Regions from separate parts of the Homo sapiens genome. Here region 2 is linked to region 1. The links come from fine-mapping of genetic effects on gene expression. Tissue or cell type: testis. Region 1 holds a variant in brackets; the other region holds the start of a gene. All regions are shown on one strand. Distances are between the middles of the regions.

Region 1 (6,076 bases):
GCCAGGTATCCCTGGGGTGATGGTGGGAATGGCATGCCAGCCTCTCCCTTTCCCAACAGACCTGGCTCCTGACTCAGCCCCTCTGACCCCCAGGTAACGTCCACGTCTACAGCAACGGCCGCATGCGCTATACCTACCAGCAAAGGCAGGACCGCAGGGACAACCAGGGTGATGTGAGTGAGGAGGGCGCCAGGGACAGCGCGGGAAGGGCACCAAATCCACCCCAGGGAGGGGGCTTGGAGGAGGGTGTTCCCTCCCACACTGTCCATTCTGGGACCAGCAGAGTCCCCATAACTCTCAGCCAAGGAGCCCTCTGGGCCTCCCTTGCCATTCTGCTGAGTGACACCAGAGGGCGCCACACGAGGGAGCCATGCTCCACATTGCCGGCGGGAGCGCGGCTTTGCTGGCCTGGCTGGGGAGTGGAACCAGAAACCCCACCCACAGCCAGGTTTGAGTGTGAGGCTCCCATGCAGACCGCTCGCTGGTAAGGCCAAAGTGACATCCTCTAAGCAATGGAAAGTTACACTTTGTGAGAGAATTTTATTTTATTTTTCATTTTTTTCATGGGTCTCAGCTATTTTCTCTCAACTTTGTGAGAGAAATTTCTTTTTTTTTAATTGAGATGGAGTCTTGCTCTCTCGCCCAGGCTGAGTGCAGTGGCGCGATCTCGGCTCACTGCAACCTCCGCCTCCCGGGTTCAAGCCATTCTCCTGCCTCAGCCTCCCGAGTAACTGGGATTACGGGTGCGTGCCACCACCCCCGGCTAATTTTGTATTTTTAGTAGAGATGGGGTTTCACCATGTTGGCCAGGCTGGCCTTGAACTCCTGACCTCTGGTGATTCACCCGCCTCAGCCTCCCAAAGTGCTGGGATTATGGGCGTGAGCCACTGCGCTCTGCCACTGAGAGAATTTTAAAGGATGACAACATAGGTGCCGACTCTTCTTGCTAAAAAGCCAAAAGATACTTTTAAAAAGATATTTACAAAAATTTGGGAGGCCAAGGTGGGTAGATCACCTGAGGTCAGGAGTTTGAGAGCAGTCTGGCCAACATGGTGAAACCCCGTCTCTACTAAACATACAAAAATTAGCTGGGCGTAGTGGCAGGCGCCTTTAATCCCTACTCGGGAAGCTGAGGCATGAGAATCACTTGAACCCAGGAGGCAGAGGTTGTGTTGAGCCGAGATCGTGCCACTGCACTCCATCCTAGGCAACAGAGCAAGACTCCGTCTCAAAAAAAAAAAAAAGTATAAAAATTATAACTAGACAGTGCTTCAAACACATTTTGTATGCCACAGATCAAAGAACAGCTAGCTGGCTAAAATTAAAATATTGTGGACAATTGCAAAACATTTTAAATTCTGGCCAGGCGGAAGGGGTTTCCTTTTGCTCTGACAATATTTATTCAATTTTTTTTTTTTTTAATTTTTTGAGATGGAGTCTCGCTCTGTTGCCCATGCCGGAGTGCAGTGGCACAATCTTGGCTCACTGCAACCTCTGCCTCCCAGGTTCAAGTGATTCTCCTGTCTCAGGCTCCTACGTAGCTGGGAGTACAGGCGCCCGCCACCACACCCAGCTAATTTTTGTATTTTTAGTAGAGACGGGGTTTCACCATGTTGGCCAGGCTGGTCTCGAACTCCTGACCTCGTGATCTGCCTGCCCCTTCCTCCCAAAGTGCTGGGATTACAGGCGTGAGCCACCATGCCGGCCTTTTTTTTTTTTTTTTGAGACAGGGTCTCGTTCTGTCACCCTGGCTAGAGTGCAGGAGCCTCCCCTCCCAGGCAAAGCTCCCACCTCAGGCTCCCCAGTAGCTGGGACCACAGGCCCACACCACCACACCCAGCTAATTTTTTGTATTTTTTGTAGAGATAGGGTCTTACTTTGCTGTTTGAGCACAGGCTGGTCTCAAACTCTTGGGCTCAAGTGGTCCTCCTGCCTCAGCCTCCCACAGTGCTGGGATTACAGGCATGAGCCATTGCCCCTGATCAAAATTTTTTTATTTTGTATCTAACAACAGAAGAGTTTAACATCACAGATTATCACACAGTGAATATATTTGTTAATTTTTATTTCTAATTCTTCTTTTTTTGTTTGTTTGCTTTTTCTGCACCCTAGAACCAGTGCTATTTCTAATTTTTATTTTGTTTTAATTATTATTTTTTGTAGAGATGGGGGTGTATGTTGGCCAGACTGGTCTTGAACTCCTGGCCTCACGTGTTCCTCTCATGTTGGTCTCCCAAAGTGTTGGGATTACAGGCATGAGCCGCCACACTGGCCATAATGTTTAAATTGGTAATATATTTGTGTGGTTCACATCTCAAAAACTTGTATATACTGCATGTCTCCTTCCAGCCCTGCCTTCCATTCTCCTGGAGGAAGCAACTTTTGCTGATTTTTTTTTTTTTTTGGCATTCTGTCAAAAGTAAATGCAGACACCTCACTTCCTCCTGTATTTCACACCAGTTGCTGCTTTGTTTTTATCTGGGAAAGCTGGCAGGTGAAGGAGCGTCTGTGTTTTGGAGCCTCGTGGAGGGAACGGCAGAGTGGTGTCATGTCTCCCCAGGCTCCACTATTCTAGGGGAGCTAGTGGTGATTATGGCTGACACCACACCCCACCCAGGTCCAGCAGAGTGACATTGGCTCTTCCCTCCAGGGCGGGCTAGGGGTGTTTGTGCAGCTGATGCCTATCCTCATCCTGATTCTCGTGTCAGCTCTCAGCCAGCTCATGGTCTCCAGTCCACCCTACAGTCTGAGTCCAAGACCGTGAGTACATGGGTGAGGCCGGGCCATGGGCAGACAAGGGGCTTTAAATTCTCAGCCCCATCAGGGGCCTTCTTTCCCATCCTGATCCAGCCAGTGTGCGATCATAATGCAGAAACCTGGCTTCGAATCAAGAAAATATACTTTCTCTATTCAACTAGGACTCTTAAGCTTTTTAGGATTATGGTCCCCTAAGAAATTGCAGCGAGAGCTACAGAACTTTTCCCTAAAACTATGCACACATGTGCACACACACATACACACACACGATACACATGTACACACACACACAATACATGCACACACATAATACACATGCACACATACACGCACACATATACACACAGAGTTTTGCATATAATTTCGGCGGCTTTGTGACTCTTCCCTGCCCATCTCCCCTGCCAACCCTGACGAAGAACCTCTGCTCCTCGGCTCTGGTTGGGCTTCCTGAGGCTGTGGAAAGAACAGGGCACTAGAGTCAGACAGAGCAAGCATGGCTTAGAATCCCAGCTTCTCCACTAAGAAGCTGTGTGACCCTAAACAAGTTATATAACCTTGGTTTCCTCATCTATAAAATGGGAATTATAACATCCACCTGCTGTGGAAATTAATGAGTAATGCATATAAAATGTCTGGCCCACTAGAAATGCTCAACAATATTAGTTTAATGAATGCTTAGTCTCGACTGCCAGGAGTGAACTTGAGGACATTTCATGAGCCGTTAGGG[G/A]GTCAGCTCCCCTCACTGATGTCCAGCACCTGGCCCAGGGTCAGCTACACAGTGGGTGCACATCTTCAGTGGGGTGGGTCCCCCTCTCCCAAAAGGTGGCCACCTCTGGCTGGGAGCTGGCAGGACCCTTCTCAGCCAGCAGGGGGCAGAGTCGGTCCACTGGACCCTGGCCGCCGGCTCAGGCTCCCTGTGGCCAGATGCCAGCCCTTTTCCCTGCAACTGGAGAGATGTGAGGAGCAGAGGACTAGGGCAGGGACTGTTGTCCCCAGAGCACTGGTCCTGTCTGGGTGTCAAGGCTCTTCCCACAGCTGACAGAGCCTGTGATTGGAGCTGGGAGGATAAGGCTCCCTGGAGCCCTTCCTGTCATTTTGTTCCTAAGCCTCTTAACCCTACACTGGGAACTCCTAGATAGGCAGGCAAGCACTCAGCAACAATTGGCTTAGGGGATGAATGGGGAGATGGAGGCACAGAGGCAGAGCCCAGATTCCCTCTCAGGTCTCCAGTTCCCTAGACCAGGCCTCTCCCCAAAGGCCCCAGGTCAGCAGTGTGGTAAGCAGGGATCTAAAGGCAGGGCGTCCTGCGGTCTGGGCCACGTGTGTGGGAGGACGCTGCCTTTTCCTCAGACTCTCCTTTCAGGGAGTGTGCGGGTCCCTGCTCTGGTTTGAGAGGGAACCAACTACTCCTCTGGTCTGTGCGGCACCTCCTGTCTTGGGGCCCATACCCCTAGAGTGCCCTGGGCATGGGGACCCGCACCCACTTTGAACCTGGTATTTCTGGCCAGGTCCGTGGGCCACATCCACAGGCGAGTCACTGACCACCTGGGTGTCGTCTACTATGTGGGAGACACTTTCTCCGAAGAGTACACAGGCTCCAGCCTCAAAACAGTCGAGCGGAATGTGGAAGATGATTATATCGCCAACCTCCGGAACAACTGCTGGAAGGAGAAGCAGCAGAGTGAGTGTGGGGGGAAGGCGGGGGCTGTATTTGGGAGGTGGCTTGGGATGAAGCTGGAAAGCAGGGGAAGGAGAGAGCCCTGCTCACCCTGTGCTCTGAGGGCCCAGCCCCTGGCACTGCCCTGCACCAGCCACCTCCCAGACAAGAGCTGGTCTCCACTCCTGTGTTTCTCCGGGGCTGGGAGCCAGGGGCCACCTGGTAGTTTCCTCAGGTTCCCGTAAATCACTGCCATCAGCCCAGCATGTTGGCTGCCAGAGGTGAGTGTGTAGAGATGGACTGGAGCGGATGGATCCCTGGCCACCCCCTGACTGTGCTCCTGGATCTGTCTGTGGGACCCTGGGGAGGCCTGACCAGGATGACAGGGTCTCACCTTGGCTGGCCTCACTGCATTCTAGAGAAAGGCGCCTCTGTCACCCTCGCCCACATAAGGACTGTAGTCTCTGCTCCTCCATGGTCTTCCTAATGGGAGGCCAGCCCTGCCCAAGCCCCGGGCATGTACCAGCTTTCCTCCGCCCTCCACAGCCCTCGCAGGCTTCCTTGCAGGCTTCGGGAGGTACTGGGTGTGCACTAACCCTGTCCCATTGCTTTGCAGAGGAAGGCTTGCTGTACCGGGCACGCTACTTTGGCGACACAGATATGTACCACAGAGCACAGAAGATGGGCACCCCCAGCTGCAGCCGACTGTCAGAGGTGCAGGCCTCCCTGCATGGATAGTCCTGGGCCAGCCACACCACCGAGGTCCAAGTATGAGCCAGGGCTGCCTCCACCCTGCAACTCCTGGCAGCTTTGGCCCTGGTCATGAGCAGAGGAGGGAGGGGGAGAAAGGGAGGAAGCCTGGTGATTGTGGCAAAGACTCCTGTCCCCAGCCTGACCTCCAGCCTCCAGAGACCGAGCAGCTGTGGGGCCTGCTGGGAAACCAAGGTCGGTTTCCGCCCTCTAGCGATGCTGTCCTCCCCACTCCTCCGCTCTGCTCCCTGGCTCCAGGGGTGTGGGGGACCCCAGAACCAGGCAGAGTGGGAACTTGAAACTGTTGCTGAGGGCCACCCGGGGCTTCTTGGTCCACTCCAGCCATCAGTCAGCACGGCCCTTTCTCCAGCACAGCAGACTATTGTCCGTGCCCTGGTATTTAGGCCATCACATATGGTGGGGCCCAAGAGAGCCCCATATGCACACTGCCTGCCTGATACCAGGAAGAACCATGTGGGAATAGGTGGGCCAAGAGCCCTCCCCTTTCTCCATCCCTCCAGCTAGGAGGAAATGGAGCAAGATGAACAGGCAGCCACGAGGTGGGTGGGAGCTGGCAGTCTTGGTGGCGGCAGGGGCCGCGGGCCCTGACCACCCCCCTCTGGTGGGATCTGAGGCACTCTCTCGAATGCCGTCACACCTGGCAGCCTGGAAGCCACAGGCATCCGGCCTTGCCCAGGCATCTCGCCTGCGGTCTGAGGAAGGGAACAGAAGGTCATGAGTTCAGGGTCAGACGCAGCCGCTCAGCACAGGAGGGGTGGAGGGGAAATGAGAGTTGCTGGTAGCAGGCTCCCTCCTTCTGCAGCCCGGCGAATGGGGGCGCTGGGCTCTGTTCCCAGCGTTTGCCAGAGGTGGCCACTTCAGCCAAGCCCAGAGAAGTGTGGGCAGAAGCAG
Region 2 (5,537 bases), 290 kb before region 1:
TGACTAAGTACACATTAAAATAATTTCAATTTTAATTTTCTTTCTTTTCTCTTTTTTTTTTTTGAGACTGAGTCTTGCTCTGTCACTGAGGCCTAGGCTGGAGTGCAGTGGCATGATCCTGGCTCACTGCAACCTCTGTCTACCGGATTCAGGCGATTCTCCTACCTCAGCCTCCTGAGTAGCTGGGATTACAGGCGTGTGCCACCATGCCTGGCTAATTTTTGTATTTTTAGTAGAGATAGGGTTTCACCATGTTGGCCAAGATGGTCTCGAACTCATGACCTCAGGTGATCTGCCGCCTCTGCCTCCCAAAGTGCTGGGTGCCATTGTACCCGGCCTCAATTTTAAGTCCTCATATGCTAAATTAAAAAAAGTTTATAGAGACAGGTTCTTGCGCTGTTGCGCAGGCTGGAGTGCAGTGGCATGATCATAGCTCACTGTAGCCTCAAAGTCCTAGCCTCACGTGATCATCCCATCTCAGTCTCTCAAAATGCTGAGATTATAGGTATTAGCCTCTGCCTGGCCGAATATGGTAAATATCGATAGGTATAACACACATAAATAAAAGTTATTTTGAGTCCTCAATAATTTTTAAGTGTATAGGGGTCCTAAGACCAAAACGTTTGAGAAACAATGATTTATGTTTTTAAATGTTATTTAACAGTTAGTTTGACTGATTAGTTTTATATAGACAAATGTTGCCTAAAATTAGAATTGAATTTCAGCAAATCTTTCTTTCTTTTTTTGAGACGGAGTCTCGCTTTGTCGCCCAGGCTGGAGTGCAGTGGCACGATCTTGGCTTACTGCAAGCTCTGCCTCCCGGGTTCCTGCCATTCTCCTGTCTCAGCCTCCCGAGTAGCTGGGACTACAGGCGCCCGCCACCACGCCTGGCTAATTTTTTGTATTTTTAGTAGAGACAGGGTTTCACCGTGTTAGCCAGGATGGTCTCGATCTCCTGACCCGCCCGCCTCAGCCTCCCAAAGTGCTGGGATTACAGGCGTGAGCCACCGCGCCCGGCCTGAATTACATCATTTAAGAGTGGAAGCCTCAGAGGCCTTCAGGTCAGGTCTATGTCCCGCTACTGCATGTACTGCATTACCTAGGGGTGTCAGCCTGCTTCCCTATCTGCAAATGAATAAAACAGTATCCATCCTAGAGTGGTTGTAGACAAGCACTGGGTTGTATGTAAAGCGCTAGCACAGAGCCATGAACACAATCATCTATTGTACTTAGGTTAGTTGGGTCTGAGAAGAAATGGAGAAAACAGAGTTGATTCTGCTTACTTCACAATTTACCCCAGGGATGGTTTTGTTGGCTTTGTTTCCATGGTTGTTGCCTTTTCCACAGCTCTGCTACGTAAATTCTTGGGAAAAAAAAATTATTTGAAAGTTCTCTGGGACCAGCGAGGTGGCTCGCACTTGTTAATCCCAGCACTTTGGGAAGCCGAGACGGGAGGATCGCCCGAGGTCAGGAGTTTGAGACTAGCCTGCCCAACATGGCGAAACCCCGTCTGTACTAAAAATACAAAAATTAGCCGGGCGTGGTGGGGCGTGCCTGTAATCTCAGCTACTCGGGAGGCTGAGGCAGAAGAATCACTTGAACCTGGGAGGAGGATGTTGCAGTGAGCATCACTGCACTCCAACCTGGGCGACAGTGCGAGACTCCGTCTCAAAACAAACGAACAAACAACCAACCAACACCCCGCTGCCCCCCCCCCAAAAAAATTCTCTGGTATTATAGTCATATTTCCATCCTATTTCCACAGCAGGGGTGAGGATCCTTTGCCATCCCATTTTTCTGATAAAAACACCTTCTTCAGCCGGGCGCAGTGGCTCACGCCTGTAATCCTCGCACTTTGGGAGGCCGAGGTGGGCGGATCACCTGAGGTCGGGCGTTCCAGACCAGCCTGACCAACATGGAAAAACCCCGTCTCTACCAAAAATACAAATTAGTAGGGCGTGGTGGCGCATGCCTGTAATCCCAGCTACTTGGGAGGCTGAGGCAGGAGAATCGCTTGAACCCAGGAGGCAGAGATTGCAGAGAGCCGAGATCGCTCCACTGCACTCCAGCCTGGGCATCAAGAGTGAAACTCTATCTCAAAACAAACAAACAAACAAACAAACAAAAAACACATTCTTCAAGGGAAAACATGTTTTTAAGTGGCTTCTAGAGATTATAAACTCTGCAATAATATTAGTCTGCAAATAAAACACCTGACAAAATCATCCACCAGAGGAAGTGGTGAGGGTTTCTAAATCCAAAAAAGTCTCAAGGTTATGAAACAGGAACATTTAATCTCTGAGAAAACCTAAACGGAGTTGGAAAGAAACAATTTCCAACTCACTGTGGTCCAGTTTTCTTTTCACGAACTCCTTTTTGCTTAGCCAACATAGCCAACACGAAAACGGGTACCGAGGAGGTGTTACAAGCCACAGTAAATTTCTCAACAGATTCCTATGACCCTTGTGGAGGGGAAAAAAACCAGAAGAAATGCCCGAGAGCTTCTGGGAGCTCTCCAGCTTTCCCGCCTAAACGCTGAGGGGAGTAAGGGGGAGTGACGGGGCTAGGGCGGGGCCCGAGGCTGGGGCGTGGCGCGTTGATTTCCCCGCCCCTCCCCGTTCCTTTTCCTCTGTGCCCCTCCCACACGCCTGTCTCCACGATCCCGACAGGCCCAGCGGCTAGGAGAGTCACGTGAGAGTGGGCGGAGGGGGTGGAGGTTTGTCTCCGCTGTTTCATCTCTATGGCTGTCAGAGGTGGGCGGCTTTGACCGAGAGGCTGCTGGAGCTCGTGTTTGGACGCGTGAGTCTTGGACTCTGGAGGGTATAAGGAGACAGCAATTTAGGGAAGGCGAAGGGGAAGGGGGTTGGCGAGACAGCCTTAGGGAACTGGGCTTCGTGGCTGGCCGTTTGTCCGCCCCGGGCATCCGGCTACTTCTCGGGTCTGGCGGGATACCTGTCTCTCCCTGATGCGCTCAGCTTTTGGAGAGGAGTCCGTAGTCTTGCTTGCCTCCCGTCCTCCACTTTCCTTCACCCCAACCCGTCCCTTCTCCCGTCCCGGGAGAACTTCTCCCAGTGCCGGGTTCGCAACTTGGCGCCGACGCCCCCCTCCTCACAGGCGACTGGGACACTCTGGTAGCCTTGACTGGCTCTCCTGGAATTTGTGGATGTGGTTAGAAGTGGGTGCGGGAGTTCACAGATGGATTTCTAATACGGAGAAATATTAACCACTGAATCGAAATAAGTGGAAAATCAGTGAGGACTCAAAGGAGAAATACAAAGTGCAGGCTACTCGGACTGTTCAGTTTTTATCTTTTCCAGCGCCTTCCCGTTTTCATTACGTTCTCCCTGTTTTGTTTTCACCGTCGCATTCTGGCCGGCCATAGGCTGTTTTGAGAAAGAGCTAGATGTTATTGACTCTATGTGAATGTTGGGAGAACAGTTTAAAACAAACTGTTCTTCAAGTTGCCTTCTCTGTAATCTTATGGTTGATGGTTTCTTTACCTTCCAATTTTCCATGTCTTAAAAAATACGGTGGCCATTAGTAAATATAAGTAGAATAAATATCTTATAGCTAAGGGACTAGAGTAAAATATTTTATTTTTCCTGTGGTACCTTAGAAACGCCCATTTTCTTCCTATTTATCAATAAATGTTTCTATCTCACTTGTTTGGGTGGCTTCTTTGATATGCCTTTGTTTATATTAGAACATCCCTTTGGGGCACGTAGGGAAGTGATCGAGCAGTATAAGAAAGGAGTTTGCATTTCATGAGGTGAAACAAGTTCGGTGTGGATAGCTGTAGGAGAGTTTAGGTTTCATTGGACCATATGACAAATAATAAACGTCAGTATCTTGAGACAAAGGTGTTGGCCAGAATGACCCACCTACTGTGTTTCTGGTGTGGACCAGGTAATGAGCTTTTTGAATATTGCCTTATCCTAAAAACTTTAGAACCCATTGCCACTTGTCTGTAGGAAGGTGGCTTTTGCCTCCAGCTACTCTTTGTCCCAATCCTTGGTTTGTCCCTGATTGTCTCTTCCACTTAAGAACATCACTCTGGCTACCTAATATATCAAGCAAGTGTCTCTGACATCTTCTGAGTGTCCTTACTGAGAGCCATAAAACATAATATTAACAAAAAGTGAATATTCTGGAGTGGCTTGTGTGCCTGAGGAGAAAGGGAAAGAATGATAGAAACTAATAGAAGCTAATAAATGCAAGAGAACAAAAGTGTTTATTGCTGTCTTCCTTTATATTTACTATATTCAGTAGATTGTTTACATTCCTAAGAAGTGCATCTTGAGACTAACTTTCCTGTGTTTAAGAATAAAACAGGCTGGGTGTGGTGTCTCAGGCCCATAATCCCAGCAATTTGGGAGGCCGGGTGGATCCCTTGAATCTAGGAGTTTGAGACCAGCCTGGGCAATATGGCAAGACCATCTCTACAAAACACAAAAATTAGCTGGGCGCATGCCTGTAGTCCTGGCTACTTGGGAGGCTGAGACAGGAGGATGGCTTGAGCCCTCGAGGTTGAGGCTGCAGTGAGCTGTGATCGTACCATTGCACTCCAGCTTGGGCGACAGAGCGATACCCTGTCTCTTAAAACAACAACAAAAGAATAAAACGATATGAAATTTCTCCATAATGCAATATTATGCAAAATAATTATAATTGAAATATTTAACTGACCAACTCCTTCAGATCTTATGCTATTCAGAGTTATAGGACTAATATAATTGATAAAGCTTTTTTAAACCCAATTTTGCCACCTTCAGTCTTTAAAGTTAGCTTTATCTCTTGAGCCATTTTTACAATGGCTGCAGCACTTGCTGAACATTAACCATTTTTTCCATATGCAGTTGTTTAGTGTATCCCTTTTAAAATAAGAACCAGTTTTTAATTAATTAATTAATTAATTAAATGGAGATGGGGTTCAGCCATTTTGCCGAGGCTGGTCCTTTTGTTGAGGGGTGGGGACGGAGTCTCATTCTGTTGCCCAGGCTGGAGTGCAGTGGTGTGATCTCGGCTCACTGCAACCTCTGCCTCCTGGGTTCAAGCAATTCTCCTGCTTCAGCCTCCGAAGTAGCTGGAACTACAGGCGCGGCACCACATCTGGCTAATTTTTGTATTTTTAGTAGAGATGGGGTTTTACATGTTGGCCAGGCTAGTCTCGAACTCCTGACGACCTCAGGTGATCCACCTGCCTCGGCCTCCCAAAATGCTGGGATTACAGGCCTGAGCCACCACACCTGGCCTACCCAGGCTAGTCTTGGAACTCCCAGACTCAAGCGATCCTCCCGCCTTGGCCTCCCAAAGTTCTGGGATTGCAGGTACAAGCCACCATGCCTAGCCACTAGAACCAGTTTTTTTAAAAAGGTTTACTCAACTGTTTTTTCCACACATATTTTCTTTTTCTTTCTTTTCTTTTCTTTTTTTCTTTCTTCTCCCTTTCTTTCTCCCTCCCCTCCCCTTCCCTTTTCTTTTCTTGTCTTTTTTTTTTTTTTTTTTTTTGAGACGGAGTCTCGCTCTGTCTTGTCTTT

What was found. PIP is the estimated chance that this variant, and not a neighbour inherited with it, causes the effect.
Region 2: MICU1 starts here. The variant in region 1 is fine-mapped to the expression of MICU1 in testis (GTEx, PIP 0.95).

Annotation. Positions count from the first base shown.
Region 1 is chr10:72,334,886-72,340,961 of GRCh38, reverse strand. DNAJB12 (DnaJ heat shock protein family (Hsp40) member B12) reads left to right here. Exons shown (of 9, transcript NM_017626.7): 5 at 94-173; 6 at 2,651-2,760; 7 at 4,266-4,438; 8 at 5,031-5,182. The coding sequence ends at 5,152. Among named protein-coding and RNA genes, the nearest start is that of DNAJB12, 17 kb to the left of the region's middle. RefSeq lists enhancers at 5,056-5,175, 5,736-6,076. The variant G/A (reference allele first, on the strand shown) is at 3,485.
Region 2 is chr10:72,623,272-72,628,808 of GRCh38, reverse strand. MICU1 (mitochondrial calcium uptake 1) reads left to right here and starts at 2,730. Exons shown (of 12, transcript NM_001195518.2): 1 at 2,730-2,799. RefSeq lists enhancers at 2,726-2,875, 2,426-2,963.